Regions from separate parts of the Homo sapiens genome. Here region 1 is linked to region 2. A link means that fine-mapping ties the variant in region 2 to the expression of a gene that starts in the linked region. Tissue or cell type: whole blood. Region 2 holds a variant in brackets; the other region holds the start of a gene. All regions are shown on one strand. Distances are between the middles of the regions. Region 1 holds the start of CHORDC1 (cysteine and histidine rich domain containing 1). Region 2 overlaps CHORDC1 (cysteine and histidine rich domain containing 1).

Evidence for each region. PIP is the estimated chance that this variant, and not a neighbour inherited with it, causes the effect. A credible set is the group of variants that fine-mapping cannot tell apart.
Region 1: it holds the start of CHORDC1, and the variant in region 2 is the best candidate, but not a certain one, in a credible set for the expression of CHORDC1 in whole blood (GTEx, PIP 0.53).

What each region holds. Positions count from the first base shown.
Region 1 is chr11:90,221,263-90,224,294 of GRCh38, forward strand. CHORDC1 (cysteine and histidine rich domain containing 1) reads right to left here and starts at 1,787. Exons shown (of 11, transcript NM_012124.3): 1 at 1,629-1,787. The coding sequence starts at 1,692. LOC124902812 (a long non-coding RNA gene) reads left to right here and starts at 1,897. Exons shown (of 2, transcript XR_007062978.1): 1 at 1,897-2,158.
Region 2 is chr11:90,199,002-90,201,501 of GRCh38, forward strand. It overlaps CHORDC1 (cysteine and histidine rich domain containing 1), which reads right to left. Exons shown (of 11, transcript NM_012124.3): 11 at 1,428-2,500. Among named protein-coding and RNA genes, the nearest start is that of CHORDC1, 23 kb to the right of the region's middle. The variant T/C (reference allele first, on the strand shown) is at 1,440.

The DNA.
Region 1 (3,032 bases), 23 kb after region 2:
TTCTTGTCTCCTACTCCGTATCTCCATTTTCTTCTCCTTCCATTCACTCAATCAGTTTACTTGAAAAATGTATTCTAAGTCTCTAAAAAAACCGTCATTTCGCTAAAGTAAATATACTTATTGGAATTTCTCTGCTGTAACTAGTACTGCTGACCACCCAAGTTTTGAGACGGTTTTCCTGGTCGCTTTCTGTTTCCTAGGCACTGCACCAATTCACACATGGATACAGACTTCCAACAAATGACTATCGCCCCTGAACTTTATTGTCTCATAAGCAAAGCGTCAGTCTTTCCCCTGTATTCTATATTAAAGTAGAATATCTGCAGACATAAGTGCAATTAATGTTTTACATAGGCTGCCAACACCAAAGGGCTTTAAAATCGTTTCTCGATTTTGTCATCGACTGAAATCTCACAATTTTCCTCATGAGTAGCATCATATTTGCATCATAAAAATGTCAGTGGCGGTAACTTGAGTATTGCATAGGTTGGATTTTCCTTTTCCTTAAAACTCTGTATCAATGGTCTTATTTTAAATAACGCTATCAATTTACCTGTGTGCCAAAAATAAGTATTTCAAACATCTCAGAGGTGAAGAGTTCAAAAGGCATCAGTTTTCATCTCCTCCACAATAATGAAGGATGTTATTAATACAACCTCATTGAACTGAGCTTCTCTATCAAATGGGTCTAATTAACATTACATGCGTCCCAGGGTGGTTATGAAGATTAAATAAGATAAAGCAATAATGGCTGGCATGCAGAAAATATAAACTAAATGCTAGTTCAATCTGAAAACGTGTTGTCACTTCTCACGATACGCAAGGAATCATCTCACTTCTTTGTCAATCAAAATTTCAATTCACTGATCATTTCCCGTCCTTCACCTAATAGTCATTTTCGCTTTGGATCCTTAACTCGACATCTAGGTGCTGTAGATGACATTCACTCATTTTATACGGGAGTAGGCATGGTAGTAAAACGTGGAGGCCACAAGAAGAACAAGCAACAAATGCCGCTAGTAATAAAAAGATAACTAACGTACCACCAGGATGAACCTATCAAAACAGCGTGAAGATACAGAGTAATGTCCCTTACCAAGAACACTTGTAAGAGGTTTGTAACAGCGGATCGACTGAACACAAACTTCTACAAGGCAGAGCTTACATGCTAGGACAACCCGCTGCTCATCCCGGCCACCTCTCCCTCTCGCGCAGGCAATCACAGCCATCACTACTTCGGGAACTACAAAGCAAGCTCACCAGTACCTCGTTAATTTTTGCTTCCCCAGAGACTGGAGGGCCAGAGGAGAAACGTGTTCGTTCTAAATTCCAGGCGACTTAAAAGGAGTGCGGGGACGACGGGGGAAACACGTGGATCCATGGGAGCGTCTCTCTCCGCAGTGGCAGAGGACAGTCAGGCGCCGGGGCCGGGCGCTCGCCAAGGGAACGCGGCGCAACAGAGGGGCGGCCGGCGGGCTGCGCGGGCAGCCAAGGGAGGCCCAGGAGGGGCATGGACCTGGGGCCGCGCGAGGACGGCTGCAGGAGATCCGCGGACACCCTCCGGCCCAAAGGGCCTCCCCTGCTGATGAGGTGGAGGGGAGGGAGGGCTGGCGGCGCGTTCCTCTTACCGTCGGAATTGGTCTCAGGATCGAAGCGCTGACCGCAGCCCCGGTTGTAGCACAGCAAGGCCATTTTCTTTTCCCACCGTCACAGGCAAGGCCCAAACACCGGGAACGGCAAGAGGATGCGTTTGCCACTCCCGTGTCGCTAGCACCGGTCTGACGACTGAGGCGGCTACCGGCTTCCGGAAACGATCCGTTGCGTTTCAGGAACCTTCGCGAATTTTCCGGTCGCGCAGGCGCAGAGGAGAAGGGACGAGGCGGAGGTAGCGGCGGGAGGCTGGCACTAGCCCGGGCCACGATAGGTCGGACTACAGCTGGTAGCAACTGGGGGTCGGAAGTGGAGCCCAGACAACAGCGGAGGAGAAATTTCCGGGGCAGAAAATGAAGGTGTCCGAGAGACTGACAATTCTCTTCTGACTTCCTCAGTGCTAACTGGCTTTGGGTATCTCCTGCAGCAAAGTGGCCGCCCCGCCCTCTCATCCCCTGCGACCCAGCACCCTTCTTCCTTGCCTTGAGGCTGCGCCTTAGACAGCCCGGTGGGTATCTGTTTACCCCTTAGCACTAAGGGATAAGTGCACAGTAAGTGCAGAATCATACAGTGTTTCCAAATCCTCAGGGTAGACGTGTGAGCTTAGTAAATGAGAGGAATAGCGGACGAACCTCTCCGTGTGTTTGTGTCTCGAGTGCCCTCATCTCAGGAGCAATTTTAATAACTTAACAGTTGCGGTCACATTACTTTGAAAATACAAAAAACGTAGAAATCAGAGTAGCAAAGAAAATTATGGATCTGATGCTGTGCCAGAATTGATCACAGTTGCTCTAAAGCCCTGGGGTAATAGTTAATATTTCATGTGAGCCTCCACTTAAACGATTTATCAATACTCAGTACACCACTCTTGGAACAGCTAGTAAAACTTCAGGTGCATTATAAAAAGTACAGTAATGCATTGGCTTCAACTTGCATATTTCCCAAACATGGGCGTTTGCAAGAAAAGCAAACACTTTTTGATAACATATACTGAAGGATCTTAAAATAAGATCAGCAGCTTATAAGTGAACCTAAAAATCTATACACTGTTTCCATTGATCTCAAGGTTATTTAGAGATCTGCTCACGTCCTCCTACCCCTAAAGACTTTTTAGTTTTTCATATTCTCTTTCTCTTCTTCTACCTAGAAGTATTAAATTTTCATATTGTGATCCACCATAGATAGGTATGTTTTCTTCATTTAACCTAACGTGAGTATTTTTCTATTTTGTTTCATAGTCATTGTTACAAATGACGGAGTATTCTGTTGAATAAATGCACTGTAATTTAACCTTTCTCTAATTTCCCCAACTTTATTATATATAAGTTACAGTGCTCAACCTGTGTATTGTTTTTCTTATTTCGAATTTCCCCCTTTAGGAA
Region 2 (2,500 bases):
GTAGGGAAGCAGTCAGGGATAATTAACAACAACAACAAAAAACCTATCAAACAATCAAAACAAATGAAACAGAAAACCCTATTAACAAAACCTAAAAACAAGCTGGGCTTAATAGCTTGCATTTCAAAACTGAGGCCATGGAATTATACTGGTGAAAACAAAGTAAATAACAAATATGAATGCCAAGTCAAAATAATTTGCCATAAAAGATGAACAACAAAAAAAAACCCTGTTAATGTTCAAATAGATAATTTAAAAGTACCTGACTGCTAAAAACAAAATTTACAGAGTACATACCCATATATCCTAAAAGGGACACCAGCCCTCATAAATGAGCTTTTAAGAGTTTACTTGGCCGGGCGCGGTGGCTCACGCCTGTAATCCCAGCACTTTGGGAGGCCGAGGCGGGCGGATCACGAGGTCAGGAGATCGAGACCATCCCGGCTAAAACGGTGAAACCCCGTCTCTACTAAAAAAAAAAAATACAAAAAATTAGCCGGGCGTAGTGGCGGGCGCCTGTAGTCCCAGCTACTTGGGAAGCTGAGGCAGGAGAATGGCGTGAACCCGGGAGGCGGAGCTTGCAGTGAGCCGAGATCCCGCCACTGCACTCCAGCCTGGGCGACAGAGCGAGACTCCGTCTCAAAAAAAAAAAAATAAATAAATAAAAAAAATAAAAAAAAAAAAGTTTACTTACTGTGAGTATACGCATGACATAAATTTTCAGGCTGAGGAATAACTGATTAAAAAAAAAAAAAAAATTGGGAGTTCGGAGAGGGGAAATAACTCAAAGTCCCTTTAAAATATTTGCAAGAACTCTTTAAGTTTCTCTACACTTTGATGGTTGAATAATTTTCTGAAGAAAATTCTTAATTAAATCCTTGCATAAAATATAAATTAGAATAAAGTAAAATCATTACAGTCCTTTGCCAGTATAGTTACACCAAGAAGTTACATCTTCAACCTATAAACATTTGTTGATTCCTAATCATATCTTAATTGTTTATAAATTACTGGCTTAAATTATTACCAAAAAAGTAGGACAAGTCTTAAGACCTTGAAGAATTCCACTAAAAACAGATGGTAAAAATAAAATGTTCTACTTTAGTTAATAGTATTATACAAAGGTTAATTTCTTAAGTTTTATAAATGTTCTATGATAACGTAAGATTTTAACATTAAGATTAATATAAGACATAAAGAACTGTTGTATTTTTACAACTTTTCTGTAAACCTAAAACTAGGTCAAAGAAGTTAAATAAAGGCTCAGTTTATTAGGATCTTACTTCCTTTATACTAGTAAATGTGCTATGAAAGAAAAATAGCATTTTAGGTTTCCCATCTTTAGTTACCAAGTATATATATAATATACCTAACTTTGACTGCTTTGCTATAGTAATTATTTTTAATGCTAAAAAAGACAAAGCAAATTTCTAGAGAAA[T/C]AAATCAATAAGCACTTTTTATTAACTTTTTTGACAAACCGATAGTAAAACATATGCTACCTAACGATAACTGTGTCCCTTTATGTATGAGTCTAAGAGAAATATTCGGATTTTTATCTGGACAAGAAATTCAAAGGCTCCTTAAGAAGAAAGTAAATACCATGGTCACTAATGTAACCAGACTAAATATAAAAGCTACATATGTATGTGTGTGTGTGTGTGTATAAATCAATGTTTTGATCAATGTAACTAATCTGAGGTTACAATAACTCACTGCTTCAAATAATATTTCAATTACATGTAACAGATTAAGATACTGTTTAGGGGAAAACAGCCTCAGAAGGAAGTATGAACAAAAAGGGATATTAATCATTACCTTTAATCAAACTAATTATCAACCTTTCCCCCAACCCATAAAGACTTCATGTCTCTAAATGGTTCCTAAATCATGGAAGATAACTTGAAAAATTTTAAATACATCTCCAGGTATCAGATGCTTATGTACTCCATGTGGGTCCAACTTTTACTGCCCAGAGTTTCTTGTCATGGTAATGTAACATCATGAAAGTCTGGTTGCCAGATCTTTATGTTTTTATTTGTAACAGAGCTAAACCTTTTAACAATTATATTAACTACAACTAAGTTATTTGCTAATGGTAGTAGAATGATACATATGTTTTATTCACGAAAATAGTACTTCTGCAAATTTTTCTTTGTAAGAATTCCATAAATACCAAGGAAAAGAAAAGACTCAAGGGGTTTGGGAAATAAACCCCTTTTAATTTTAAATCTACATAAGTTTAATTTATTCCCAAACTTTCTAAGTTCTTCCAGAGTTCTGGCCTTCAGAATATTTCCTAATTTTTCTTCTTGAGTTCTGCACTAACTCAAAACCTATCCAAACGATCTAATTCTGTATTACCTATATTTAATATAAAGTACAATATATAGTCAACATTGTATCACTAGAATTGTGAAGCTCTTCATGACTTTAAAAAAAAACTCCAAAACAATTAAGCTATTTTTATTTAACATGTAATAGTCATAAAGCAACTCCATAT